Regions from separate parts of the Homo sapiens genome. Here all the other regions are linked to region 1. Evidence: fine-mapped expression QTL. A gene starts in region 1. Each other region holds a variant in brackets. All regions are shown on one strand. Distances are from middle to middle.

Region 1 (10,155 bases):
GGAGGCGGAGGTTGCAGTGAGCTGAGATCATGCCACTGCACTCCTGCCTGGGTGACAGAGCGAAACTCTGTCTCAAAAAATCATATGTTGAATCCTAATCCCTAGCACCTCAAAATGTGACTGTATTTGGAGTTAAGGCTTTTAAAGAGGTAAATTCATATGGGAGTGCCTAATCCAATATGACCAGAGTCTTTATAAGAAGAGGAGATTAGGACCCAGGCACACACAGAGAGAAGACTGCATGAAGACACAAGGAGAAGATGGCATCTGTGAGTGGAAAAAAGAAGCTCAGAAGAAACCAACCCAGTGACACCTTGATCTCCAACTGTGTCACAGAACTGTGAGACAATACGTTTTTTATAGTTTAAGCCACCTGGCCTGTGGATTACGGCAACCTGAAAAAATGAATATAGATTCTGAAGAGCAGGAGACAGAGACAGGAAGACAGCAGCCACAAAGGCTCAGGGAGGTCCACATTTCAGGTAGGGAGGCTTCCCAGGTGGGGTCCTTAGGGGCACAAGCACGTGGTGAGCACTCTGTCCACATTTGTTGATGTAAATGCTGGTAATAGCATAAATACATTTGGGAGCAAGCAACTCACTTTTGGTGAACACAGGGTGGTCTCTGGCCTGAGCACAGAGGGTGATGTGGGCACATGTCAGAAGGTTTTGCAGAAAGAGTCAGGCGTGTGGGGATGTGGTGCTACTTTCAGCCTCAAATGCTTCCCTCCCTGTGACCAGAAGGTCCCACAGAAAAATGAGCTGGGCACAGGGACAAAGAGGATGTGCTGAGCTTTAGAAAAGACAGAGTAAAGAGATTCATGAAAATGTCAGGTCTACAGCCCACAGCCTGGGTACCAGAAGCCAGAGCTCATGTGTGCATGTGTGTGCATACATTTGTGTGTGTGTGTGTGTGTGTGTGTGTGTGTGTGTGTGTGTTACCTGCTGCTCTGCACTGGGCCATGCTAACACCTAGCTCGGGCCAAGCACAAGGACCCTGTGAAGAGGCTCACAAATGACTCCTGACTCCTGAGGATTTATGTACCATCTGCTGCTGGACTTACTGCAGTCCCTCCAAGCACACCCTCAAGGACTACTGAGCTGGGGTGCCATCAGTCTTGGGAAAAGAGAGTGAGAATTCCCTAAAGCAATGTTTGGCAAACTTGACTACTATTCTTTTCAAAGGCCAAGAAACATTCCTATGGACCCTGCCTTGACTTCAGTTATTGCTGTGGAAATAAAGCAGCACAAACACAAACAGCTAAGCTTATAGTTGCTTTACAAGTGCAAAACAAAAACCAAATGTGTAAATTAAACACAATTGCAAACAGCAATAAAACTCAAACTAACAACATTAGTTTAATGTGACTATGGGTGTTTGTGAAACCGATTTGCCTCTTCTGTGAATATGGAACTGAATGCCATTCAGATTCTCCTGATGGGTGATGGGCTCTCATGCCAAGGGCTGGGAAGTGAGTCAGAGCCTTACAGGAGTCGCATGCTGATAGAGCTTGATGCCTTTACCTCCACAGGAGTCAAACTGCCACGTGTGTCAGACCAGCTCATACTAGACTTTGGTTACAATCCATTGCTTCTCTAACACTTTTAGTCTAGACTTGCTCCAAGCTGGGAGTCTTTGTGTCTCTGTAGAGGACTTACAGAGGTCTTATTCCCTTATTTCTAAGTTATTAAGAATGCAGAATGGGAATTTTCCTGAAGCCTAAGTCTTCTGCTTGGATTCACAAAACATCAGAACTGCATTTACTGTAACATCTTTGACATGGGGAGGAAGCAATTTATAATTAATAGTACCTTACAATAGATGAAATAATGTAATATGTATGATACTGATCAATAATTACATGATGCCTATGAGCAGCATATATATAAAAACACTGAGATATCATAAAAGTAATAAACAAGTTTTAGTTTTAAGTTTTACTTCGAAAAAAATGAAAACTTACAGAAGTTGCAAGAATAGTACAATGAATTCCATATGCTCTTTATCTAGATCTACTGACTTTCCCATTTGCCTCTCTCTCCCTGTGTCTCTCTCTCTTTCCATATATATATTATACAATACATATTATAGATAAACTTGTTATTTTTGCTGAACCATTTAAGAGTAATTTACAGTCATTCTATTAACACCAGATACTTCAGTGTGGATCGCCTAAGAACAAGTGTAAAGGCATTCTCTTTCATAATCATGCTCAGGAAATGTATGTAGTATACAATATAGTCCATTTGCCAGTCATACCAATAATGTCCTTTTTAGCATTTTTTTCCTGATCCCACATCAAGGATCTAGGATCATACGTTTCACTTAGTTGATAAGTCTTTTTAACCTCTTTTACTCTGAACAGTTCTTCAGTCTGTCTTTTGCTCACTGAATGTTCAATAAAAGTAGAAGGCATAGACTGAGATTTTTAGTCTTATACATCAGTGGTCAGTTCTAAGATGTTTTCTTTGTGGTCAGTTTTATAGACATCTGTTTGGTTCCTAGTCCCTCCCTCATTTCAATCACCTCCATCTGGAGCCTTCTAGGAATCTGGGGCCATGTCTTTCCGTTTCCTGGGAGCTGGTCCAGGTTGCTGCATCCAGCCGGCCTGCAGAGCCCTTGGCATCAGCTCACAATCACGTCCCTCTATTGGGGTCACCAATGAGGTTGGTTAGAAGCTATTTCTATCTAGACATCCTGTCAGGCCTATAGCTTCACATTTCTGTACATTTCGGGAAAAACAGTGTAGTCCATACTCCTTCCCCAGTTGTGCAGGGAGAAGACGGTGCTGAAGGTTTCATGTAAACTCTGCCCCAGGGGCCTTAGGCATATCTTTCTGATTGGATGGCTGCATTGTCTGTAACCACGATCTCTCCTCTTTCTTATCCTTTCCCTGCTCTCTCAGTCACAGCTGATAACTGCTTTTCTCTAGAGTGAACTCTCTTTTAGTGGCAATTCAAGCATGTAGCTGACTGCTTTTAGCTGTAAAATGCCTGTGAACAATAGGGAGGAGCAAATATTCAAAATTACTTTTAGAAACCTAGACTGAAAAAGTAACACTTGGAAATCTGCTAAACACCTTAGAAGAGGGGTGTTTCGTTTTGCTTGATGGTCTTAGTTTAGGGATATATTTGCTGTGTGCAAGGTCCATTACAAAACCATGCTGTACTCTTCCATCTCTGACCCAGGTTCTAACAAACAATTGGATAATGAAAGAGGAAAAGCCCCGGCCTGCCAGGTGATAGCAGAATGCACTTGTTGGAGAAAATCTGGATTTCTAAGATTCTTTCAGTGGCAACTGGTAGAATACAGGATTAGTTGAGTAGGCTCTCCATATAGCTTAGTGTCCACAGGAATCTGGATCAACTTTAGAATGGTTTGAACACCCTCTTCTTATGAGGTAAACAAAAAATAGAATTGGATTGTATTATTCTTCCAATTCAGTACAAAGTAAGACCTGATAGAGCCAAGGTATGGACAAAGAAGCCTGTGAAGGATTTTCAAATGGTCCTAAGCTTGTGAATGAGTGAGCAGGCAGCAGAGCTAAGAAAACCATTTGGAAGGCCTTTGCCAATGTAGTCCAGAAGAGCTGAAAGGCCAAGTCTTATCCGGGTCACTGGCTCTGTCTCCCATGAGGGCTGAGTATATTCCCTTGTTCCTGTGTTCATGCAGCAAAGGTTTTACCAGGATGATCAGTTAGATTATATGGGAAGCTGAAAAGTACCAGCAGTGCACACAGCTGTAAAATCAGCACAATGTTACCTGTAGCAGAAAAGTACAAGAAAAGCACTTTCTAGCCTCAAATCTTTGGCACAACCCCAGTTTGGTAAAGACGAAGCAAGTCAAGGGTGGCAGGCTGAATTTCTGCTCTGTTTTGCAATGAGAGTTGGATATTTAGCAATATACAACGACCAAAGCAGGAGTTGCCTCCTCCAAGGGTGGCTGACACATCTAAGGGGTCCCTTCTGCTTTTCACCAACTGGGAGAGTAAATTGAGACCAGCAGGTTGAGGTGGGAGGTTACCAAGGATACCAAATGGCCCTGCCACATCTCTAGCTGCTCTTAGTACAGCCATGTCAAGACGCCATTTTACATGTGTCACCTTCACTTGACAAATGAAATTCAGAGAGGTTGTGCTGCTCCAGGACCCAAGGTTGTTGCCCAGCCAGAGCGGGTCACAGATCCACTTTCAGAACCAGTGCTCCTCTTCAGACATCCTCCCTCAGTCTGCCAAACACTGCCCCAGGCTCCAGGGCTGAGTCAACAGTCTGCAGTCAGAGTCCAAGTTCCCAGTTCAGACATTTGGTGCCCCACAGAACCTTGTACGGGTCCCTGGTCTTCTTTGAGCCTGAATTTACTAATTTGTAAAATGAGGCCTAGGACATTATGTGGATGGGACGTGAGGCTCGTTTGCTCATGTATAAAATTGGTTTCCAAACTCTGGTCTGGAAGCCTCACTTGGTTCTAGTTTGCATTCCTGGGCTGCAGGAGTCCATCTGACCCCAGTTCTAGTCCTCACTTCTTGTCCTTGGCATCATAGCCAAGTACCTTTGTTGCCAACTCACTATCGGGTCCTCAGGCCCTTCCACCAACCCAAATTATAGATGGGGCTGCTTTCTCCAGCCTGGCTGCCTTGATGGTCAGTCCAGTCCCTGCAGGGCCCTGGTCCACAGATGAGTCTCCTAGCTGGAGGATCCCATGGGGTCCAGAGACCTCTGGAAGTGCCTGGGGTTCAGAGATGTCACAGAGCCTTTGCACCCACTGGCCTGGGGTGCCTGAAGAGGATGGTCCCTCTGGGGAATGCCCTGGGGCTCACACTAGTGGGCTGCACCCTCTTTCCATGCCACCCACACCTCCTCACTCCCTTAGAGGGAAGGAGATGAGGGCCCTGTCTCCTCCTCCTCCTACAGGGACCCACTCCCAACCAGGGCCCACCTGCTAGCTGCTGCTACCCCTCACTGGAACTCCACAAAGACCTCTCCTGATAGACACACACAGAATAGACCTAACATGTGCTTTTCTTGCTTGGAGATGGGTTAGGCTCAGACCCTAAGTTTAGAACAGTGGCAAAGAGACCAGGCATTGGCTCAGAGTGACAGGGCTCTGTGGTTGTGTGACATGGGTCTCTTTCATGTGGCTGCTTCTGCTTCCTTATGTATAGTAATAATAGTAGTGTTCACTGACACCCGTGAATCGGGTGCTGGGGCAATGCGTTAATGGGAATGGTGTAACTTGGTCTTCCTAAACACCCCAGAAGGGGTGGGCCCATTTCCCCATTTTACAGGTGCAGGAAACTGAGGCACATGGAGATTACAGAACTGTCCCAGGCCTGACCGCGGCGGGGTTCAGTAGCATCTGGAAAATCACTTTAGCCCAGGCCTGGCTGAGGCACTGTAAATGGGCACTTTTGTTAATAGTTTCCACATATTCTGGGCTGGTCTGTGTGGACCCTCTCAGTTTTCCAAGGGTTAGCACCTCGGACCCCGCCCTCCATTTCAGGGCAGCAGAAGGGGCTTCTCCCCCCTCAGCTGCTTGTTGGCTCCCGAGGGTCCTGTGGAGTGAGCGCAGGAGGCCCACGACCAGCAGGTGAGTCTCAGGCCAGAGGTTCCCTGGACGCGCCCCCACCCCCTGGCTCCCAGATCCCGCCTTCCCTTAGGAATAAGTGCATCTGTGGGCAGAGGACCGCCGGTCGCACTGCAGCTGTGTGTTCTGTGAGTCACCAGCGATCACCTTGCAGAAACTCAGTTTTCTCATCTGGGAAATGGGGCTGTTGAAAGGAGACGCCACAGATCCTGGAGCGAACCGATCGCGCGGCGGCTCCCGCGCCCGGTGCGGGCCTCGGGACCCAGCAGCCCCGGCCCCGCGTGGCAGGCGGCCCAAGGGGCGGGCCGGGGGCGGGCGCGAGCGCGGGCCCGGGGCGGGCTGGCGGCGGCCGGGCCAGGCGGCGGCGCTCTCCCGCGTCACAGCGCCGGGCGGCGGCGGGGAGATGCGGCTGCTGGCACTGGCGGCGGCCGCGCTGCTGGCGCGGGCTCCGGCTCCGGGTAAGCGCGGCGGGGCCAGGCGGGAGCGGGAAGGGTGGGGGCCGGGCGGCCGCGCCGGGGAGGCCGGGGCTCCGGGCCTGGTGGGGAGGCCCTGCCACCTCCGGGCGCGGGCGGGGGGCGGCGCTGTCACTGTCGCCAGCGCGCTCCGGTGGGCTCGCCGAGGGTCTGGCGGGCGCAGCGGCGCCTCCCCAAGGTTCAGAGGACGCCTCCCGTGAGCGCGGTCCCCGTCCCGACCTCGCCTGGGGCTGGGTACTCTCGCAGCAGCCGAGATCTTCCCAGCGGCAGGCCCCGAGGGGAGATGCAGCAGGAGCGCAGCCCAAGTTGGTGGTTCGCTTTCCTTTTTTCCACGGCAGTCAGGACACACAGCTCTTGGCAGATTCCTCGGAGCAGCAACTTCCCTTTCACTCTCTTCGGAGAGTTACTCCGAAGACAAGTCAGGAGCGGCTGGATCTGCCTTGGCCAGGAGGTGGGGAACGGGGACTTGATCGTGGGCCTTTTGAGGTGACCAGGCCTGGTGAGAGGGGCATCCACGGCTGGATGCAGCGACGCCTCTCCACCAGCACCCTGCTTTGAGGACAACTTCTTGGTCCACACTAATGGCTTTCATTCGGGTTTTACTGCTCCCACTTGTAAGTGTCTTAAGAATTTTCCCTCTTTATTCCCCAGAACTCTGTCTGGCTGCCTCAGGGCAGCAGGGGCCGTACTGGCTGGAATAATAGTAATAATACAGGTATCGATGGTCACTTTCCCTGGGTGCCTATCTGGGCCTATCTCATTTAATTACAACACTTCCAAGTAATAATGACTACAACACGTTTATATATCCAAGTATTAAAAAAAAAAAACATGAACTTGGTTAATCTCACCAATAACCTCTGAAGGAGGTGCTATTATTATCCCTATTTTATAGATGAGGAAACTGAGGCTCAGGCCCATGAACGGACTTGCCTTAATTCAGTAGGCTTGTAAGTGGTGGAGCTGGGATTTGAACCCAGTTAGCCTGGCTCTGGGCTCTGTCAATAACCACTAAACTGTGTTGCCATTGTTTTGAAAATTAGGAAACTGATGCTCAGAAGTCATTTTCCAAGAGTGATCTGGCTACCAAGTGTAGAGCTGGCATTTGAGCCAGCATTAATCCATAGATCCCAGTCTGAGGAGGAGGCACTTGGATAACAGTGGGAAGAAATCCATCTACTGTCCCCCAGCTATGAGTGCAGCCAGGTTCCCAGTGAACCTGAAATCCTTGCTGCGGGAAATGTACCTTTTCCCAGTTGTCACTGTCTCGGCTGGAAAAATGATGAGAAGTTTGCCTTGGACTGGTGGGCAGGGCCAGTTCTCGTGGTCTCTGTGGAGTAGCCAGCAGCCAGTGGTCCTTCCTCTCCCAGGCTCCATGACCACCTTCTAATTGCAGGAGCTGTCAGAGTGGGTGTCCCAGAGATTGTCTTTTGCTGGGGATCAAGGGCATTCTCACATTTCCAGAGCCCTCGGGAGCCTTGAGAGCTGGAATTCAGGAGCCTTTAGAGTCTGCCCTGGCTGTGCCCATGGTCAGCCCTGGAGGATGATAAGAGCTCCTGCTTGTGGGACACTCACTGTGTGCCACCCACTTTTCTAAGTGCCTCATTCATGACTCCTCACCACGATCCTGCTGGGAGGGGCTGGCAGACCCATTTTATACATAAGTACAGCTTCTTAACTGCTGTACTTTTCTGCCTCTCCATTTTGGGACTGACCAGGACCCTAGTGGTCACCTGGTCCCATGTCTCATTTTACAGGAAAGAAAACTGACAGACAATATATTTACGATAGCAAATCTGTAGGCTTGAGAGGTGGCTGAGCTGTCTTTGAAGCAAGATGGCCTAGGTTCGAATTCCAGCTCTGCCACTTACTATGTGAGCTTGAACAAGGGCTTAGCCTCTCTGTACCTCAGTCCTCTTGTCTATAAAATGGGAATAAACAGAGTATCAGGATAAATTGAGAAAATACATCTAAAGGGCATAGAGTTTGTACCCGGCAGGTATTAGCCTCTATCATTGGGCAAGGTGATATTTTTATCCTGGATGGAGCTATTTTCAGGTGATAGGCTAATGTGAGTGAATCAGTCCATGGGCTAGGTCTGGCATCACCTCTGCTTAGTGCTCAGTAAATACTGGCTCCTGGTGCCAAAGACTGTTAAGTAATATAACTATTTCTTTCAGAGATTTAGCTGTATGAATTCAGACTATTCTTTTAATAAGAAAGCTCACTGCTGCTGATCAGTACTGACAGTTTGCATTCCTTATAAACTTAGAGGCTCTGGTCTCCCTGAAGTGAGCAGGTGCAGTTTCTTCAGGCAGAGAGGAAGTGGGAGGCACACAGCTACGAGCACATCCCTGGCCTGCTCAGAACCGAGGGACTGTGCCCACCTCTGCATCCCAGATGAGGCTGCTGCCTTGTTCTGTTAGTTGTCCTTACTCCCTCACCTGGAAGTGGCCATCTCCCACTTCACAATGAGTAGGTTGTTCTATTCAGCTACAACGGTGTCCTAGGCTGTTTTCAGAGTGGTGTTAGTCCTTTTCATGACATTATTCAAATATAAGCAAGGGGGTTAGACACCTTAACTTTTATCCACAGGAATTTGAGATTCGTCTACAAACATAACCAGCTACATCGCTTGTGGGATCCAGTGTCAAATGAAAATGTGGGCCTCCTTGTTAAAATGTATTAAAATTTCAAGATAGCAACAGCAGAGATTAAACCATGTTGGGGTGTGAGGACTTCCAACCATGGGGTCCTGTGTGCCTGCAGGTCGTGGGCCCACGAAGCCCACTGTACTCACAGGACAGTGTGCATGTCACTTTCTATTGCTCCCACCTCCCCAGTCTCAGGGCATGCAAACTCTATCTGTATTTTAAGGGTGCTTTTGCATTGGAGCCTATGCTTACTGTGAAAGGCATCCTTTTCCCATTTTTCGGATGAGGAAACTGAAACTCCAGGAGGCTCACACCTAACAGAATCAGGTTTCCGGCCTGGTTCTGTCAGATGCCAGCCCCTGGCTCTCTACCCAGCCCCACCAAGCCACTGCTTCTGTGTCTCATCGTTTCTCTGCAACTACCAGAGAAGGCCTGGGACCATAAACATCCAGTGCTTAGCCCATGTGGTGCCCAGGACTACCAAGTCCCAGAGCATGTGCTTGTTGGAGACTGGGATTTGCTGCAGCAGGAATCCTGTCCCTCTGTTTGTATCAGTCTCTTCCCTATCAGTTTTGTTATATTCCTCCTTCAAAAAGTGGCCTTGGGGAACCTGACTGGGGTAGGGAATGCCTTCTGAGGATCATGTGTTGGCAAGGGTGGCTGTTGGGCCACAGTGGGGTACAGTTCACCAGGATGAACTGACCTTTCCATTTCCAGCCTGTACAGGGTCCCTCTTGCCTCACAACATTTGCAGAGGTGGGGCTCCCTCCTTGGAAATCATTCCTTGTTGCTGCCTTGAACTTTATTTCATTAGCTGCAAGTGAGTCTTTAGCTCAAGCTCACATCCCCAGAGTCCCTTCCCCTGACCCCGAAGTCTAGATCAGGATCTTGCCATGATTTTCTTAAACCCTGCACTTTTCTCTGTGGCATGTGACACTGTAGTTATATTCTCCCATGTCTTTTCCCCAATGAGTGGCTGCCTTACCCACTGGACTGTCCACTGCACAAGGTCAGGAATGTTGTTTTCTTCTTCACAACATGCCTGCTGCATGAGGCTTAAGCTGGAGGAAGCAGGAACTGTGAGTGGAGAGGTACAACGGGGAGGGGGACGATGCGTCTCCCTCCCACCTCAATTCTCCGCAACACAGGGTCACAAAACAAGAAATTAATTTCTTCTTCGGGCCTGAGTGACTTTGGCAATCCTTCCTAGGCCAGGAGAGGGAGGATCTGCCCTGCCTGGCTGCTCCATCATCTACCTGGTGGAGGAGGGGGCGAGTGACACCATCAGGTCCTGCCCCTCTGACAAGCTGGGCATGCATGGACTGTCATTCAGACTGAGATCCAGAGGGAAGAGCCTGGGCTCCCGGGGGCCCTGTACACTGTCTCCTGCCTCTGGACACTGCTGCACCTGCTTCCCCTCGTCCTGTCCTCTGATTGCCATTGGT
Region 2 (10,155 bases), 28 kb after region 1:
AACCCCATCTCTACTAAAAATACAAAAAATTAGCTGGGCGTTATGGCAGGCACCTGTGGTCCCAGCTACTTGGGAGGCTGAGGCAGGAGGACGGCGTGAACCCGGGAAGAGGAGCTTGCAGCGAACCTAGATCTTGCCACTGCACTCCAGCCTGGGCGACGAAGCAAGACTCCATCTCAAAAAAAAAAAAAAAAAAAAAAAGAGTAACTATGACTTGAACTATGGGCCAAGAAGGATTCTAGAAAGTGAAGAAAACAGACACAGATAATGAACAAGGTAGAATAAGGCATGGTCTGGTGCACAGTGATGGATTTTAAAGCCACACATTCCATAGAGAGAGGAAGGGTGTGAAACATTAGATCACCACTGGAGGAAGGCTTCAATTCAAATTGTCTCCAGTTTCCAAGACAGGCAGTTGACTCCTTGGGAAGACACGTCCATCCTTACACATGTTCTGCTCTTTTAAAAATCATTGTTTCTTGAAAGCTGTGTTCTGCACATCATTTTCTACATTGAGACATGCTATTAAAAGGTGCTCTTTCAGGGTCCTTTTGAAACGGGAAAAGTTCCCTTGTCCCCCTACCAGTGCATGCGATAGGGGTGTGGCTGGCTTCTTTGGTGCCCTGCTGCTCAAACCTTTAGGGAAGCATACAGATGGGCAGGAGCTGTGGGGCTCCGACCCCACGGCAGTGTCCAGGGGTGAATGTTTATAACTCCTGAAGCCCCAGTGGGCATGTGTTATGGGGTGCTCTCTTATTTTGCCGACTATAGGCTGCCTGTAGCTCAATTAAGACCCTCCACCTAGTCTCAAGGACAGAGGGCTTTCTGTATCCCGGGTTCGTGCCTTGGTGTACTGGAAGAATCAGATCACATGTGCGCTTGGAGAATATCTTATTCTCCAAGTTTTATTGAGTACAAGTAGCTCCCAGTCAATGGGGGAGGTAGAAGGGAGACGGTTTTCCCCTGGAGTTGGGCTGCTCTGTGGCCCCAGCTCTCTTCTGACTGCCTCGGCCAAACTCTGCCTGGTGCCTGGTCCCACTGGTCGATGTCCTGCCTACATACCAGTGCCTGTCTGTGTGCTCTTCTGCTGGCATAATCTGCTCCATGTTCTCTGGACTACCAAGCCGCTTGCGTCTTCTTCCGGTGACGTGCTCCTCTCGATGTCTGACTGCGTCTGTCTCTGCCTTGCTAGGTTCTCAACTTTTTATAGGCCCAGGATGGGGGCGTGGCAGGCCAGAGTGGTCTTGGGAAATGCAATATTTGGGCAGGAAATGCCTGTCCTCACCTAGGTCCGTGGAGGTGGAGCCCTAGCCAGGGACCACGCCCTCCTCTACCCAGCACGCCCCTTCCCCTTTCCATATTGTTCAAAGGGACCATACTCTTCTCTTCCCAGCACTCCCGTATCACTTTGTAGATAACACTTCTGTGGCAGGATCACTCCTTATCCTTATTACTCTTGTTTTCCCTAGATTAAATAGAAGAGGCATTGGTTTAGTTTTGAGTTCTAAACCCTCTCCTGGATTGGACAGGACACTGAGGCCCAGGGCCTGGTTTCTCACAGCAGGACTCTCCTCTCCCACATCTCCTTGTACTCAGTCTTTCTTCTAGGAGTGCACATGACAGAGACTCTCCAAGTAGGGTCCTCGGGCCTGGAGCCTCAGAATTTCCTGAGAGGTGAACTCCCTCTTCAGGCAGAGTCCCAAACCCTCTCAGAAACTCAGGGGCAATGCCTGGGAGTCTTCGTTTTAATAAGAGCCCAGTTGATTCTTCTGCACAGTAAAGTTTAAAAATATGGCTTTAGAGCACTAAGGAAGGCAGCACCTGCTAAGGACAAGATCTGTAGAGTCTGGGAGAAGGCTTCAGCTACCCTGGCCAGGGTAGGCACGGAAAGGGAAGGCATGTCTCCTGAGCCCAGCTGCCTGCCTTCCCTGCATCCTGGCTCCTGCTCCCTCCTGCCTCGTTCTTCCTCTTGGCCCGCCAGGGCCCCACCACTTTCCTCTCCATCGAATCCTGCGTTCTGGAAGGCTTTCCGTGTCAGAAATGTGCACCTGACTTTGGATATAGCCTAGAGTTGCAATTTAAGCTTTGTTAATTGTAAGATTCTTTGTTAAAGGAATTAGGGGCGCCAGTGGGAGAGAATTTCAGGAAAAATGGAGCCTTCCCAGGACCTCTCGGAATTTTTGGCCATCACTTCCGTGGGTGAGTAAGGTCAGTCTAGACAAAGCATGTCAGCGTCCTTGGTGAATGGGGGACCCCGAAAGAACCAGAGGCCCCTTGGCACCCAGAGGGCATTGTCACAGGGTCTTGGTGTGAACTCACCTGTGAAACATGCCCTCCCCAGGGAAGTTGGCAGGGTGTTCTTTCCAAGGCAGGAATTAGGGCTCTCGGTTTTCACACCTCTCTGAGTGATGGTTTCCCCCCAGGTCCCATCAAAGGGGACTTGACTGAGGCTCTTTCTTTCCAGCCTGCTTCCTCTAGACATGCAGTTGATAGAATCGGTTTGTCTCAGTACCTCTGGGCTGCATTCTTCCTGACTGTTTGATCCTGTGGCCACTTTCTTCAACAGAGGGGCAGTGACGTGATGGATTTCACAACTTGTCCCTTATTAGATTTCATCCTATTCTGTGCTCCTGGGGAGGCCCCAGAGTGGCCTGTAGCTCTGTCATCTGGGCCACTGCCTCCCCGGAAACTCTCATGGGCTCTGCCCATTGGGTGCTAGGGTCCCAAGGCAATGACAAAGCAGTCAGTAGGTCAGCTGACAATTTAGCTTCTGAGCACTCATCACCCCTCCCTCCACTGTGAGACCTGACCCATCAGATATAAAAACCCACTTTAGTTCCGATAACAGCTGTACTGAGATAGGTGGCTTGGCACTGAGATCAAATTGGGCTTCCTTCTACTTCCCTGAACAGTTGTCCTGCCTGTTCGCCTTTCCCCACCCCCCACCCCAGCATGGGGACTACATGCCTGTGCACTGTGGGAGCAGGAGGTCAGGGTCCTTGCACTGCCCTTGTCATGGTCTCCCTGGACACAGGACGGATGGTAGAGGAGTGTGTGCAGGAGTGGTCACAGGTGGGGCTCCGTGAGAGGCAGGGCTGGTGTCACTCCCAGCAGCTGGGGTGATGAGACTGTCCCAAGGGGCCCCACAGCATTTGCCCCCATGCCAGCTATTTGCTGGGAGACCAGTCTCAGAGCACAGGGCAGGACAGAGTCTACTTGGAAAAAGTTCTTTACCACATTCCTATCACCCAGAGGGGGGCTGTGGTCAGAAGCTCACCTGGATCAGGAGCTTTTCCTTGTCCACCAGGGGTGAGGGAGGTGGTGAATGCAGATGAGAGGGCAGAGAGGGGCAGCATCATTCCAGTCCTGCACCTTCCTGGGAAGGGATGGAAGTCTCATTTCTCCTCCCTATCATGAAAACCTGAGCACAGAGCAGCAGAGTCCACCATCAGGACCCTATAGGACCATTGTCTGGCTCACCAGCTGACTGTCATGCACTTGCTTTCCTCTTTGGGGGATTGGGCTGGGCACTCCTTTAATCATGAGCAGCTGTCAGGAGGGCAGGACCTCCATTCCTTTGAGCTGGTGCATAGGAAGAGTCAGCAAATTGGTACAAGAGGCTGTTGTCATCTTCTTTCCAATTGTCTGGAAGTCCAGCTGGATCCCAAGGTGAGCCCAGTACGGCAGAATGGGATAGATTGATTGACTCTTGCTTAAGGCTCCAGCCTTCTGATTGCTGAACTCATTGGAAACTGTTACAAAAATGCTCTTCCATCAGGAGATTTGCATTTTATTTCCACAAGTCTTTGAGCAACATTAGTAATCTGTGGTTGGAACATTTGCCACTTGTTCCTTAGTCTTGCCAAATTTTTTCTCAAAGCATTCCATCCTCTTCAAGCCCATCTACCCTGCTGGGGCCTCTTCCACTCCACACTTGAAGGTTGACCAAGGTGAATTTATATTAGCTGCTCACAGCTGTGCTGAGGAGGGCAGAGTATTTGTGGAGTCAGGAGACCTGCTGATTGTCCACTACACAGCCCTTGCTGTTGGCCTGGCTGCATCCCACAGCTCTGTTTCCTCATAGTCTGTGGACTCAGACCCCTGGCTTGACAATATATCAAATTCACTTTGAGATAGCACAGGATTAGCAGCTGCAACAAGATACTTATGGGAGAA[C/A]CTTGGGAAAATTCCCGAAGATCTGGCAGGGTCCATGTAAAAATTTTTCTTTCTTGTAGGAACAAGTAAGATTAGGACTGGTGTTTCTAATAATCAGATGCCAAAGTTGCTGCACCGTCCTGTGAAATATCTGCACTGCGGGGGAGTGAGGAGCATCCAGTGATTCCTTGCATAGGGTTAGTTTAGAATCCCAGTTTGTTAGCTCTTTCAACACATGTGTCCATAAATAGATTAGGGAGAGCTTGTTGCTTTCTATCCTAAATAAGGGAAAGGGAACTGTAATTGGATTAAATCAAGGACCCACAATTTCTGACCCTGAAAGTTGCATAAAAAATGACCCGAAGGCACCTGTTGGTTAGAATGGCAGCAGCTCATTCAAGGTGTAGAGATTGAAGAGTCACCCCCTGAGGCAAAGGACTGACAACAAAGGGCCATTCTGAGGTTGGCGGGGGTGGAGGTTAGAGCAGTGAATAAAACAAGTGAAAGTCCCTGTACTTAGACAGCTAGTGTGGATATGGGCTCAGTAGGTCTCAGGCACTGTTCTGAGCACTTCACACACATGAACCCCTTTAACCCCTGCATCTACTCTGACATGGGCATTTCTCATCATCCCCATTTTACAAATGGGTAAAATAAGGCACAGGAAAATTAAGTGACTTATCCAAGGACATAAAACTAGCAAGTGGCAATTGAGTCTTTCAACCCTGTGAGCATGTGTTTGCCAAATTTTAAAAGGCATACATTTCACCCAGGGGATTTGGGCTTGAAAGCAGATTCTGATTCAGTAGATCCGGCATGGGGCCTGCCATTCTGCATTTCTGAGGAGCTCCCGGGTGACACTGACATTGCTGGCCCGTGGACCACATGTGGGGTGGTAAGGGTCCACACCATGATGGGTATCCTTGGCCTCCTGGAAACCAAGCTCCTTGAAGATATATGTGTATTGTTCATCTCCGTGTTGTCTTCATCAGGACCTTCTTATCCTTATCTAGGCTTGATTAGCTGAAGCCATGGAAATCCAGCCAAGCTTTTTCAGGAGAGAAGTGGGCACAGTCTAAGGGTGCAAAGCTCTTGGAATGCAAAGAGAGTAAATACAACATGCCAGGCCTTGTGGGGCCCAGAGTGCCATCAAGCTTTGGCCTCTCATCTTCCCTCTGCTATGCAGGTTCTAGGCTCCGCTCCATTCTGCTCACTTGTTTTCCAACATGGCCACCCACAAAATCCACTGGCTCTTTCAATCTCAGGGCTCACAATAACCACATGCACTCTGTTTCTTATTTTAAGTGTTTGAAGGGGGAATCTGGCAGTCAGTAGATTACAGGGGCTATGGGTATTGAGCAGGTCAAGGAGGTTGGGTGTGATGGACAAATTGTCTGATGTATCTTAGATCACATGCAAGGTCAGATATTCACTAAGAGCTCCTTCCTGGAGGTCCAGGTTGCTTCCTTTGGGAGGAAGTCAGAAAGAAATATATAATTCATATATTTTACCAAGCACCTATCAGCTGCCAGGCAATGTGCCCAGTGATAGGAATACAGAGGTAGAAGATATAGCCACTACTTTTTAAATAATTTAAGTTCTAATGGCAAAGGAGTTCTGTGATCAAGGCAACCTCTCAGCAGAGCAAAGCCCTCCTCCTGAGAACAATTAGGAAAACTGAAAATAAAGTCTATCAGCACTTCTGCTTTCTGATTCACATATCTACATTTCATAAATATATTTGTATTATATAATTACATATATATGTATATATACATATATTACATGTGTATATACACATATATATTACATATGTATATATACACATATATATTACATATGTATATATACATATATATTACATATGTATATATATACATATATAACATATATAATTATATATATGTGCATATATATCCAACTATCTTAATTGTTATCTGAAGGACTAGATAGGTAGTTAGATCACAGAGAAAAGCAGCAAAGTGAGCCCAATTGCTGGAGACGTTTAACTCTAAGAAACTCACTCATACTTAAGCAGTGCTAGTTGAGAGAAGCTATGGAGAAAGTGACAACCAGTATGTTTAGGAGGTGAGTTAGTTTTTGGCAGTTCTAACAGTGAGATAAAAATTGGGAGGTTGTGGTAAATACCCCAGGATTTTTGCTGGGGAACCCTGAAGGACCGAATGAACCCTGAGTAAGGGCAAACCAGAAATAGAGCGGATTCTATAAAAACTGAAAGCCTCTCAACAGTTCAAACCCTGATTGGATTAAAGTGACCATCCCCCTACTCTAACTTCCTATCAGGGAACCAAAATTTTATCTAGAGTCACCAAGATTTTCTATATACAATGTCTGGCATTCAATTAGAAAAAAGTTATCAGGCATTCCAACAGACAAGATCTAAAGCAAAAACAGATAACAGAAAGGAGTCTATGGGAAGTGCAAATATGAAAGTTTATCAGGCATAGACATTAAAATAATATGATTGATATGGTCGCAGAATTAGATGACAACCTAGAGAAATTCATTAGAGAACTGAGATATCTACAAAAGAATTAAACAAATAATATAGAACTGAATAAAAAGAATAAATGCAATTAAGAACTTAATAGAAGGGTTGTACAGAAGGTTAAACACAGATGAAGAGAAAATTAATGATTTGGAAGATATGTCAATAGGAAATATCCAGTGCAAGGCCCAGAGAGACAAAAGGAAGGAAAATTCAGAATTGAGATCATGACAATAATAATACAAAAGTTTGTGGGAGAGGCAGTAAATCGAATTTAAGTTCTAGGCCATCTTTGCCGTATTTCTTGTCTCTTTTGTTGATTCTATCTCCATTCAATTCTGGTCCTAGATTCTCTTGTCTAGAGCTCTTCGTTGTGGTAACCCCTGAGCACATGTAGCTGGGTAAATTAATTAAACTTAAATAAAAGTAAAAATTCAGTTATTTGGTAAGACTGGCTGCATTTAAAGTATTCAGTAGCCACATGTGTCCAGTGGCTGCTGTATTGGACAGTGCAGATATAGAACATTTCAATAACTTCAGAAGGTTCTATTGAACAATAATCTCATTCCGTGATATTTTACATTTTTCATCAGTCTGTTTTCTAGATCTTTACCTATGATGATGTTACCCCTGTACATGGAAACTTTCCGTGGGCCCAGACTCCTTTAATGTGATGTTCAAAGTTTCACACAGTGTAACTCAATTCTGTTTCCCTGCCTGTTGAAAGCAGGCAAAATGAATTCAGTGATCTACCATTACCTGAAAGAAGACAAAATGTTCTCACAATTAGATGCCTGTGGCTCTGTGGGTCTGTCTTGCATGGAGAATGGTGCTCAGAGCACTAACCTTGAGTCATCTGATGACTTCAGGTTCCTCTATCCAGGAATACTGGGACAAGTACACTACATTTTAGAAAGATTCCCACTAAAATGGTAAAATAAATCATGTATTAATTATTGGGTTTGCCACTGGGAACTTCTTATTTTTCAAGTCTATGGGGCAAGTGGGGCTTTTACTGAACTGCATCCTGAGCTTGCCATTTACTGGCTTTTAAACATGGATGACTTAACTTCAACCTCTCCTGTGCCCCTTGTTTCCCAACTGTTAGGTAAAGTCCTTGCACCCCTCCCTAACATGTGAGTTTTGACAACTAAATGTGGTTTTGCAAATGTAGAAATTGCTTTGTAAATGTAAGTGCCATGTGTACCATGTGGCATTATTTTTTCATACTGTGCTGTTTCTTTTTTGTCTTTCAGTCATTTCCCTCAAAGCTTCTGAAGAGTCATCCTTTGAGAAAACAAAAGAGACTTGGGCATTTTTTGAAGGTAAAGCTTGTATATTTCTTTTTTTTATTGCTCTATAGTTGCTTTTTCTTTTTCTTTTTTTTTAAATTATACTTTAAGTTCTAGGGTACATGTGCACAACGTGCAGGTTTGTTACATATATATGCATGTGCCACATTGGTGTGCTGCACCCATTAACTCGTCATTTACATTAGGTATATCTCCTAATGCCATCCCTCCCCCTTTCCCCCACCCCACGATAAGATGCAGCCTCACTTTTAGACAATAGGAAGGAAACAGAATATAAAGAAAGGACCCTAACTTCTTAGTTTTTAAGTTGTTTTCTTGGTCTAAACTTACTCAAAGTGAGATGGAAATCCCTGACAGTATCAGCCCACAGTTTTGAAAGAGTGGAAGTTAAAGCACCAGTCCACATAATTTTTGTTTGTTTTGTTTTGCTCCAGAATTCCTACTCCCAGGTGATATTAGGGACGAATCTTCAAGTGATATAAAAATGATAAGTACCTCTACTGTGACTACATTTTATTTCAGGTTGCTTAAGGAGTTTGGGGTTCTAGAAACAGTTTGCAATCCTTAACCAAGTAATTTTCAACCCATGCTAGAATCACTCATGGAATGTTAAGAACATGAATGCCTGGACCACATCTCTAGAGATTCTGATTTAATTGGAAGTTGTTAAAAGCTCCCCAGATGATTGCAGCATGCAGCCAGGCTGAGAACCATGGCCTTGGAACAGTGGTTCCCAAAGTGTGATTGCAGACCGGCAGCATATGCATCACCTGGGAGCTTGTTCCAAATGCACATGGCTGTGCCCTGCCCTAGCTTATAGAATCAGAAATTCTAGGGATGGTGCCCAAGAAATCCGGGGTTTAACAAGACATCCAGGCAATTCTGATGCACATTCAGGTTTGGGCCTTAGGGCAGGGGTTCTCAACAGTGGGTGACTTTTGCTACTCCAGGGTACAGTTGCCAATGTCTGCATGTATCTTTGGTTGTCACAGCTTTTGGGGGTACTCCTGGCATCTAGTGGCAGGGGCCAAGGATGATGCCAATCCTACAATACACAGGATAGTCCCCATGACAAAGAATTTTGGCTCCAAGTATCCAGAGTGCTGAGGTTGGAAAACCCTGTCTTGGAGTAAGGAAAGTTCGGAGAAATTATTATCATAAAGTGGGTGAGGATTATGATCATAAGCAATTAAAGAATGCACTTTGTGAGTTCTCTGGCAGAGCTTTGGATCAGTGAAAGGCTGATTAATGTTCAAAGGTGGTCAGGAACTTTGTAAAGATTATGTCTGGTGATGGTACAACATTTATTGATGAGGAATGATCTAGCCAAAAGTCTCTAAGGAGAGGCACATGTCTTGAGGCCTTACTGTCACCCTTTGTTAACCCATTGTATGATCTGGCAGAAGGAGGGCCATCCTTAGGGAGCAAGTACTTGCTTTCAAGCTCACCCCTTCCAATGCCTAGTTATAAAGCAGTAGACTGAAACACATTCTGTCTTAGGAAAATGTAACTTTTATTGTGAACATCGTTTGCAGACCATAAGGTGTCACCCACATAGGCCTCTAGGATTAATTGTTTTGTTTTGTAGTCATAAATATTTTGTTTATGAGATTGCACTCATGAGAATCCAACAGTGATTCTTTGTATTTCCTGATGTTTCTCTGCATTTTTGTAGTTGCCTTTTTCTTTATTTGATGACTGCCTCCTAGTAAAATAATCCCCATTTCTCCCACTCAGCCTCTCATTAAGAGAATGCCTACTCATTGGCATTGGCAAAGAAATGAAAATGACTTTACTTCTCATAGAGTGAAGCAGTAGTAAGGGCAAGGTTTACCTTTCTCATTACTATTTAGTAAAATTGAGGCAACCCCATTGATGTTTGCCCCATGTCTCTGGAGCTGCCCTGTGACCAGGCACTGTGATGGGTTGGGATATGGAGAGGGCCTGGCTGTGGCAAGGGTAGATCACTAGGGATGTGACAGCTGGAGCCTTATGTATCATCAGATGCATCAGAATCTTCCAGGGAGACTTCAGGCTCCAGCCCCTGAGGTTCTGGTTATAACATTAGGAAGGGATCAGAGAACTTTCAGGGCCACAGGTGATTCCTATGCAAGTGGTCTGAGGACCATACTTTGAAAATGCCATGGTGCAAAAACAAGACCATATATTTGGAAAGAT
Region 3 (10,155 bases), 19 kb before region 1:
TGTGTGTGTGTGTGTGTTTGTAATGTTGGGGGTGGGGAGGTGTGGTGGGGATGGCAGATGGGGTGTTGGAAACCAATGTCCCAGCCAATGTCCAGCCAGTCTCACTGCACTGCAGGGGGGCATGACTGAATGGACTGCTTCCCCTCTGGCTGCTAAGCCTTGGCCTGGGGCCTTTCTTGGGAATTTTCCTGTGGGAATTTGACATGGCCTGATCCAACCTTCCCAGAAGTTCTCCACCCTATGCATACTTTATTCCAGGAGGGCCAGGGATCCATTCAAGACTTTGGGTGCTGTGCGGGAGAAGGGACAGTTGCTGGCCTCCTCAGGACACTGGGATTATCCATTAAACAACTGCATCATCTCTCTGCAGGACAGGCTGGGAAGAAGCATCTTCAGCCATGCCTTTGAAATAGCTATTCCAATTGTGGGGATTAAAATAAGTCATCCCAGCTCTGCTCAGGAGTTTTCTGTGAACATATTTTCTGCTTTCCAGCCACAGACATCCATTAGTCTTGGATGTGGGCTAAAAGGAACATGGAATCAAGCACAGCACACTTTGACGTCAAGGTGACTCACTGTCAGCCTCTGGGTCCTGGGTTCTCACCCTCACACACTTAGACATCAAGGTGACTCACTGTCGGCCTCTGAGTCCCCGAGTCTCACCCTCCAAGTCAGAGCTGTGCCATGCTGCAGGAAAGCTGGCCCAGTAGAAGACAGGAATGGCTCCTGAGGGCTGTGTCCAGCGTGGCCTGTGGCCAGCCCATTTTGGACATAGAGAGAGAGAAGACCCCTTTCCCTAGAGCTCCCACCATGGCTCTCCAAGAACATACACAGGATGTGGCCAGTGCTGGGATCCTGTGGGATCCTGGGATCCTGGGTCACGTGCATGGCATCCAGCAAGGAGTCTTTCCTCTCAGCTGAAGCTGCCCTTCCAAGGAAGCGTGTGTTGGAAGAAGACACTTCTGCATCCCACAACCTTGTTGAACATTCACAGCCCTGCTGGGCCAGAGCTGAGCAAAATGCAGCAGGCTCCAGGCCAGGTGGGGCTCTGGGGCCTGGAGCACAGCCATGCCATGACTGAGGACCCAGCCCCAGGGACCAGCCCCCTCCTGGTTCCCTGATGAGAGGGAAGGCCTTGGCTATTTGTGTGGGCACTCTGAGGTGAAGGCCAAAACCCGAGACAGCGCCAAACAAACCCACCAAAGGAGCAGCCTGTTATTATGTCTAAAGAAAAACAAAAGCAAAACTCCCTTTCCTATTTGCTTGGGGGAGCTGAAGAAGAGTCCTCCGGATTACATTTCCCTGTGGCTGAGCTGAGCCTTCTGTGGTCCACTGACTCACTTCTTTTAAAATAGTTACAAGAAGCAACAGAAAATAAACCCAAAAGATAGTACTTCCCTACCCCACTTCTCAGTTTGTCTGATAGCTTTTGGCACTTTCTCTGCAGCCCAAGCACACAATGAGGTCATCCCTAAGCCCTGAGGACTGACCTTCACTGGGAAAAATTCCCACTCTGAACACCACCAACCCCACTCCATGCAAACCTGCTGCGCAGCATCCGGGCAGCTTCCCACTTCTCCCCTGCCCTCGGGTGTTAAATCTGATAATAGGATAACTTTGGGAGGGTGGCAAGGCACCTGCCCCCTTAGAGGGGCCCCACTTTCGGTGTGGAGAGAAGAGCAGGATCATTGCCCGTTTGCAACACCTTTACACAGTGGCTCTAGCCACAGAAATGCCATGATTAAGACCGAAGCACCACCCCTTGGCCAAATGGACAGATTATTTCTGGACTCCCATGGACCCCAGAATGAATGATGTGATTCTCCCCACAGCCCAGATTGGGGCGCAAGCCAAGCTCTGGAATTAGAAGTGAAGAGAGACATGGCCTCTCTGCTTCCTGCTGTGGCTGTGGCCACTTTATTTCCTGTTAGCCTCCTCAGCTGGGAAAAACAGAGGCTGGGAAGAGTAGGTTTTGGAAGAAAAGTTAAGAGTAGAAAATATTCCAGGCCTCTTGGATGAGGTTTAGGGCTCGCATGCAATGTGTGCAATGAGCTGGCCAGGCGTCAGAGCTCCAAGAAAGTGCTGCGTTGGTCCTTTTGGGGGTTTGCACACCAGCCCTGCTGGCTGCAGCAGTGAGGCGCAGAGGTTCCTGGCAGGGCTGGAAAACCCACTGGAGAGTGGCAGGGGGATGGGTGGGAGCCCTTTGTGGGTGGTCTCAGCTGAACATCTGCATGGAGCAAGCAGAGCGGCTGGGGCAGAGGCTCTTCCCATAGACGGAAACAGCCAGAGGCCATGTGAGTGAGGAGGACAATCGCTCACCATCTGAGGGGCTTCACTCCAAACTAGCCCCAGGGAAGTAGCCCATAGGAAACATCAGAGCAACCTGGCCATGCAGCCCTGCCCCCAGGCGTGAGATGGAAGCCACTTCTCTCCCAGCTTTCCCACCCAAGGTTCATCAAACCCCTCTGAAGTGCCAAGCTCCCTATCTCTAAGGAGGGTTCACAGTGTATAATTTTTGAGAGGATTAGGAAGAACGTATATAGATTCTGGGTAAAGAAAGACCCGACTCAAGGGACTTTGGAAAACATCGTTTGGATCCCAAATTGTAAAGCTTTTGCCTTTACAAAAGCAACCGTATATAAACATTGCAATCTAGTAAGTTGTTTCCTATGGGGTAAGAATGGGAACCATCCTCCCAAGTTGTCCTGGGAAAACCACAGGGCTCACCTGGCCCCCAGGTTTCCCTGACTGGGCCAGGAAGAAGCACAGAGCACAGATGCTGGTTAACGAACTAGCTCACTAGAACATATTTAAATATTACAAGGGAAAATCAAAGTCCATTGAATTACCATGCCCTGTAACAAATTGCCCCAGAAACTAGTGTGTAAAACACCTTTTCTTATGCTCACAGTTTTCTTATGCTCACGGTGGGTGGGGAATTCCAGGAGGGCTTGTCTCTGCCTTGTGATGTCTTGGACCCCAGCTGAAAGACTTGAAGTCTGGGAAGCAAAATTATCTGAAGGTTCCTTCACTCACACATATGGTGGTTGATTGAGACCTTTGCTGGGGCTGCTGCCTGGAACACATCTATGTGGCCTCTCCATGTGGCCTAGGCTTCCTCACAACATAGTGGCTGAGTCCAAAGGAGAAGGGAGACAGAACCAGGAGGAAGTCACATCTTTTATGATCTGGCACTGACAGTCACAAAACATCACTCCTGTGCATTCTGTTGATTGAGGCAGTTACAAAATCCACCCCAGTTCAGGAAGAAGGACGCTGTCGTGTTATCAGAAGAGCATGTGGGTTGTGATATAGATTGGTTTGGCCATCTTTGGAAAATTTGGTCTCACACAGCCCCACCTAATCTTTTTCCTCTTTCTTGAGGTCAACACTGTTTTCTCTTGGGTGTGATTATTTTCAGATCTCCTCTGTGCCTTTTGATACATAGACAATATAGAATTTGGTCAGTGCTTTTGAGGGAGTATGTTTGATTTTTACATAGGTGGGGTCATCTATCTATTCCTTGTATCTTGTGTTTTCATTTAACATGAATTCACTTATCAGTATGTATAGATCTCTTTCTTTTTATCGTGGTGTAGTATTCCACAGTTTGATTATGTTGTAGTTTCTTTATTTTGATGGATCTTAGGAAAGTCTCCTGTCTTTATTTCTATTATACACAATGCTGCAATAAATATTTCTCTAGGTGCTATTTTATGCACATATCATGTAATGTGGCTGTTCCCTAGGAAAGAGATGATAGTAAACTGCTTAGGAAGTGCCTGCCCACTTTTAATTCTAATGGGTACCACCAAACTTTTTGAGAAAGTTAAGGTACACTGTTCCAACAGAGAATAAAAGTGTTCATTTCCTTACGTCCTCACCAGCACTGGGTATTGTCCATCTTTTTAACTCTTACCTATCTCATGGGTGAAAAGTGCTATACTGTATACTACACATTTTTAAGTTGTAGCTCCCTTATTACAGTAGGACTCAACATCTTCTCATATATTTATCATCCCTCTGCATTTCTTCCCCTGGAAACTGCTTGCTCATTTGCTTTTTTTTCCAGTTCCACTGAAAAGCAGAGGAATGCAAATTGAAACAGTGAGTTTTTTAAAGCAGTGAAATTAGAAAAGATGACAAAGTTTCTCAATGCTTGCGAAGACTAATATTGTTTAAGTTGAGAAAAAGCACCTTGTAATTACAAATGTTAACATATTTTCTTTCTACACATTTTTCATTAAAGCGTAAGCTCTGAACCATTATGAAAATATTCTTAATTGTTTTACATGAAGTGAGACCAAAGTTGATTCAAAAAAATAGCGAATATAATTTTTCAGCATAATTTGTTGGCTGAGTCTCCTTTCCTCCCAGACTT[G/C]CTGTTTACTTTGCCGCTTAACAATTCTCCATGATGTCATCTCTCTCTGAACTGCCTTCCATCCCCCAATGACCTACTTATTTTCTGTGCTGGCTGCCCCCTCTTGTTTTTGTAAGGCAAGTCTTTGTATTTATTTGTTAAAAAAGGGTGCACTTACACTATTTCCTCTTTTAGCCAGGGGACGTAGTCTTCTGTTTAGGTCAGGCGTGACTTTCATGGCTCAGTAGAGCACCGTGGTGTCTTCCTCCACACAGTGGCCTCACATTCTAGAGAGGAGGGTATTCCTCGGTGCTGGGTGTGTGGGGGATGTTGATGTTGCTTGTGGAATATTGGGATTATTTTCAATCCATCACCTATCTGAACTGTTTAGTATTTGGGATTCAAAGGAATAGAGTTGATGAGACTGACCAAGGGTGGGAAGAGATTAGCCACAGAGGGAAGTGGTAAGAAGCTTGTTGGAGGAAATGAGTGAAGTGCCAGCGTGTTGCAGAGCAGAGAGATGGCAGGTGAACATTTTATCAGGCTGATTGAGGCTGAAGCGTGGTTTGTGCAAATGGAGAAGGAAGAGGCAACTCCCAGAGTCCTAGTGGGAGAGAACCAACCACCCTGGAACTGCAGAGATCCAGGGAGCACAGAGGAGGCAGCTCCCAGAGGGAGTAACGCCTTTTTCAGCCCAACGTGTTCATCAGCTATTTACTCATTATTTCCTGAGTGCTTGTTAATATGTAAAACATTGATCTAGACACTAGAGATATAATGAGGTGGATGGAACGAAGGAAGTCCCTACCTGCCTAAGCTTACATCTAAGGAGGAGAAGACAGATACAGGTAAACCCATGAGATACACACACAGACATTATATACAGCCTAGGGTGGTAAATGCTATCATGGAAAAATAAAGCAGGGTAAGGTGACAGAGAGTTGTAGGGCCAAAGAAAGCTCTTTTCCTGGGGGTGCCAGGCAGGCTCCTCTGACCAGGTGATGTTTCAGAGGAGACCGGAAGGAGAGAGAGCCACACAGGAACCTAGGGGAAAGCCTGGAACAGGCACAAGGAAGAGCAAGTGCGAGAGCCCAGAGCCCGTGAGGGGAGGATGCCGGGCATGTCCGGGAGCAGTGAAGTGTCTGGAGTCACAGGAACTGAGCAAGGGAGTGAGTAGAGGAGAGGGGAGGGGAGGGGTGGGGTGGGGTTGTGGAGGGTTGAGGAGCTAAACAGGGTCAGCGTGGGGACGTAAGATGGGGGAGAGAAGGAGAGATTTTCCACACTGGGAAGCAGGGTCATTTTATGTTGGCTGCTGACTGTATGTATGTGAGCCTATGTATGGTTAATTAATCTGGCATGAATTTGTGTGCATGTATGTGTGTGTGGTTAAGTAAATATGTGTGTGAATTTGTATGTGTGAGCATGTTATGTGTCTATGTGAACACACGTACATATGTTTATGTTACTGTGTGTGCCATATGTGTTCCAGCGTATATGTGTGTCTGAGTGATCATGTATGCGTTTCTTTGTGTGTGAGTGACATAGTATGGACATGTGTCCCCTTCAAATCTCATGTTGAAATTTGATATCCAATGTGAGAGGTGGGCGTAGAGGGAGGTGTTTGGGTGACGGGGACAAATCCCTCATGAAGGGCTCAGTGCCACCCTCGTGGTAAAGAGTTCTCACTCTTAGTTCTGTGAGAACTGAGTGTTGAAAAGAGCCTGTCACTTCCTCCACTCTTTCTTCCTTCCTCTCTTACCCATGTGATCTAAACACACCTGCTCCCCTTCCCCATTTGCTGAGAATGGAAGCTTCCTAAGGCCCTCACCAGAAGCAGATGCTGGCACTATGCTTTGTGTACAGGCTGCAGAAACATGAGCCCAATACACTTCTTTCTTTTATAAATTACCCAACCTCAGGTATCCCTTTGTAAGCCACACAGATGGACTAAGACAGCGGTTCCATGCATGCTTAAGTGTATACAAGTGTCTCTGTGTTTATGTGTTTGTGTTTTTATGTGTGTCTAAGGAGTTAAGAGTATGTGTGTTTTGTGTTTCTGTGTGTCCATGATAATACACAAGACAGAAAAGGAGTTCCCATGGGGAAATGAGAACATGTTGGGAAGCCTCTCCTGGTATCCAGCCTCAGCCTCTGCCCTCGCCATGGGTCACAGAACAGACCAGTGCCATCGATGAGGTCACACAGTAGAGCTAGGATCTTAGCGACCATGGGGAGCTCAGTGTCCACTCTGGCTGGGGCCAGCTGGAGGCCTTCAGTACAGCCCCAGCCAACTCTCACTGAACAGCTGGAGCACCGACACCCTGGGCACTCATTTCAAATCATGAAATGCTACTTCACAGATCACAGGGGAGAACAGTCACCCACCGATGGGACCACCCTCAGCTTGACCAGCCCTGAGTCCACTGAGGAGAGTGTGGAAGTGTTCTGGCCAGGTAGGTGAAAAGAAAGGCCTGGAAGGTCAGCCAGCTGTGCTCCCTGGGAAGGAAGCCCTGATGGGAAGGGACAGTGCCAGGTTGCCTCCTGATACTGTTACCAAATGGTTGTGTTGACCATAAACATAGATGTGGAGGGAAAGGAAATTGATATTTATGGGACACTTGGTGTGACTGAGGCTGTTATGAGTATATAAGGTGTTTTCAGGGGATATGAGAATGAAAATGTAAAATGTTTATAATTATGTATTTATTTTAATGTGTATTTGAGAAAACAACACGTCCATCCTGTGATTTCAGCAGTGAAATAAAAAATTCCTTTATAACAAAATGATGAAAGTTAATCTAGAACATCAATTTGAAGACCGCGGGGACGTGTCTGTGGGCAGCACCTAAGTGTCACACCAGCTCTGGGGGCCCAATGGCTCCACCACTCATTCAAACTCCATGCCTCTCTTTCCTACTCTGTTGAATGGGAATCCTAACAATATAATTTCTTAGGGTTGTTTTGAATATTAAACTTGGCAAGCACTTCCATGGCAAGAGGGACACAGTAAGTGTTGAAGGAGATAGTGAGATGCCCCCTCGGGAAGGTGAAGACAGGTCACAAATGTTGAAGAGGATGGTGGGTCTGGGTGGCTTGGCCAAGGCACTTTGCATGTGTTGTTTTTTAAATGGGCTTTACTGAGGTGTCTTTTATGCACACAGACTTCAGCAATTTTAAATGCACAATTTAAAGAAGTTTGACACATGTACATTTGTGGAACCACCAACACAGTCATGATAAAGAAGATTTTTCAAAACCCCTAAAAGTCCCCTTGTGCCTTATTATGACCAGTCTCCTCTCACCCCGTCCCCAGCTCTGGGCAACCACTGAGCTGTTCTCTGTTGCTAAAAATTTGCCTTTTCTAGAATGTCATCTGAATAAAATCATATACGACATGGACTCTTTTTTTTTTTTGTTCACATTCTCTTATGACTACATGGCCTTTTTAATTGGCTTCTTTTATTTAGCATAATGCATTCAGGATTCATCCGTATTGTTGCACGTCTCAGTGGTTCATGGATTTAACAGGTTGCATCATATGGATACACCTCAGTCAGCTTACCTATTCCCCAGTTGATGGTCTTTTGCTTGGTGATTACTCTAATACATTATTTGATCCTTATCATCATATCCCTAATGTGTATATAACTCTGTTATTCACCATTTAATGGTCTTTCTCAGTTGAGTCAAGGATTTGGTGATTGCATTCATACATTATTCAATCATTACCACACCCTATGAAGCAGGCATTATCACCATCTTCATTTTTTCAGGAAATGGGCAGAGGGGGCGGTGTTTGCTCAAGAGCTCCCAGAGCCTGTACCCTTTCAGAGTCTGCGGCTCCTGAAGGTAGATGTGGCATTGATCCCTTAAAGGGCACTGATGACAATGTCCTTCTGCTTCTCAGGGACTATACAGAGAGAAGGGTCGTCCCCACGGCCGGGGCCTGCCATTCCCCGGGAGGAGGGCCTCTACTTCGCTGCCAGGGACCGGGGGATGCGGGACTGGAGCAGCTCCCCATCCTCAGAGTCCTCCGAGTACCAGTCCTACTCCCAGTACCAGTCGTGCTGCTCCTGCATGTGCGATGAGGACAATGCTGCTCCGCAGAGTGTGTGTGCCTTCTACACGCACGTGCAGACTGTGCGGGGTGTGGCTGTGGCCTGGGAGACGGAGGCCGGCTTCGAGCCGGTCACCAGGAAGCCCCGCATCCATGAAGCCCAGTTCATCAAGAGGCAGAGGTGGAACGGCTCCTCCTTCGAAATGGCTTCCAACACCGATATGCGCTGGGACCTGGAAGCCTGCAAGAGCAACTGCAGCCCCGAGCCCGAGGACATAGACCTGCTGGAGTGCTGCCTGCAGGAGCTGCGGGAGCCGCCGGACTGGCTGGTCACCACCAACTACGGGGTGCGCTGCGTGGCCTGCTGCAGGGTCTTGCCCTCCCTGGACGCTCTGCTGGAGCACGCCCAGCATGGCATCCGGGAGGGCTTCAGCTGTCAGATCTTTTTTGAGGAGATGCTGGAGAGAAGGCGGGCTCAGGGCCAAGCACATGACCAACAGCTGGAGGAGGAGCAGAGTCCTTCAGACAACAGCGAATGTTCCCGGCCCCAGGGTGAGGTGCTCTCAGCACAGCAGCAGGAGAAGCAGTGAGCCAGAGGGGAGATACCCAACCCTGCCCTCACCTCCAGGGCCTGGGACTGCTCCTTCCCCAGCCAGCAGTATCAGAGCCACTAGGGCAGGGAGAGAGGACCAGGGTCAGGGGGAAGGAAAGGCATGGAGTGTAGAGCAAGGAGGGCCAGGAGACTGGAAGGAACCCCCTTCCTGCCCTAGGCACAGCATCTCCACCAGAGTCCATTTCAAAACCCAAACGAGAGGGCTTTGAGTGTTTCTGATGGCAGGCACAACATCTGAAACCCACAAACGCATGGCCAGAGGGATTTCTATTTTTGCCGGTGGATCAGGCAGGTCCACACTTGCTAAGTATATGTGGGTCACAGGACAGCCAACTGCAAATTACTCTCCAGCCCTATTTTTTTCACTATTACAAATCTGTCATATGCCCTAGTTCTATGTCTTATGTTATTGGGATTAAACTTGAATAACACAAAATTGAATGCAGTGACTAACTGAGTGAACCATGCTGTCATATTGGACACATGGGAAGTTGCCATTTCCATAGGTTACAAACTAGCAGAAACACCTGGAGACAGGCAGCTTCTCAAGGTAGAGCAGGAGGCTGGGGATGTCCTTCTGACCTATGAGTTCATCTATGTCAACTATACATTTTTAAATGGTGCCATGAAATTCATCTTCATCCTTCTCCCTGTCTCAGGGGGCTGTGTTCATTCAAGAAAAATTAATTGTGGACCACTGTGTGTTTGAGATGCTGATGGAAGACATAGTCCAGCCTCTGTTGCTTCCAGTGAGAGACAGTTAGAATGGGCAATTGCAAGGCAAGGGGATGAATGACATCAAGGAGGTTTGGGGAGCCTAGATGAGGGGCCCCAAGTTCAAGCTGTTTGATCAGGATAAAGAACTTTCCAAAAAAGATGATGCTCCCGGGGGCTTAAAGGAAAAGCTAGACCAGGGTTCCTCAACCAGCACTGTTGACCCTGCATGCTAATTATTTGCCGCGGGGGCTGTCCTGTCTGCTGCAAGATGTTTACTGGCATCCCTGGCCTCTACCCATCCGATTCCAGCAGCATCCCCTGCCCCACAGTTGTGAAAATCACAAATGTCTTCAGAAATTAACAGATGTTCCCTAGGGACAAAATCACCCCTGGTTGAGAATCACTGAG

Direction of the effects. Alleles are on the strand shown, and positions count from the first base shown. SD is a standard deviation of normalised expression in the study named.
With allele C in place of A in region 2, the expression in tibial nerve of the gene that starts at base 5,950 in region 1 is lower (small effect, 0.29 SD a copy in GTEx).
As copies of C replace G in region 3, the expression in NK cells of the gene that starts at base 5,950 in region 1 goes up (large effect, 2.5 SD a copy in Schmiedel 2018).

The links. PIP is the estimated chance that this variant, and not a neighbour inherited with it, causes the effect.
Region 2: its variant is fine-mapped to the expression of VSTM4 in tibial nerve (GTEx, PIP 0.96).
Region 3: its variant is fine-mapped to the expression of VSTM4 in NK cells (Schmiedel 2018, PIP 0.95).

Annotation. Positions count from the first base shown.
Region 1 is chr10:49,111,317-49,121,471 of GRCh38, reverse strand. It overlaps VSTM4 (V-set and transmembrane domain containing 4), which reads left to right and starts at 5,950. Exons shown (of 8, transcript NM_001031746.5): 1 at 5,950-6,041. The coding sequence starts at 5,987. It overlaps LOC124902545 (a long non-coding RNA gene), which reads left to right and starts at 11. Exons shown (of 2, transcript XR_007062371.1): 1 at 11-269; 2 at 364-1,356.
Region 2 is chr10:49,083,789-49,093,943 of GRCh38, reverse strand. It overlaps VSTM4 (V-set and transmembrane domain containing 4), which reads left to right. Exons shown (of 8, transcript NM_001031746.5): 3 at 7,921-7,989. Among named protein-coding and RNA genes, the nearest start is that of VSTM4, 27 kb to the left of the region's middle. The variant C/A (reference allele first, on the strand shown) is at 4,177.
Region 3 is chr10:49,130,465-49,140,619 of GRCh38, reverse strand. FAM170B (family with sequence similarity 170 member B) reads left to right here and starts at 6,599. Exons shown (of 2, transcript NM_001164484.2): 1 at 6,599-6,813; 2 at 8,268-9,466. The coding sequence starts at 6,702. The coding sequence ends at 9,007. It overlaps FAM170B-AS1 (FAM170B antisense RNA 1), which reads right to left. Exons shown (of 6, transcript NR_038973.1): 2 at 4,539-4,964. The variant G/C (reference allele first, on the strand shown) is at 4,382.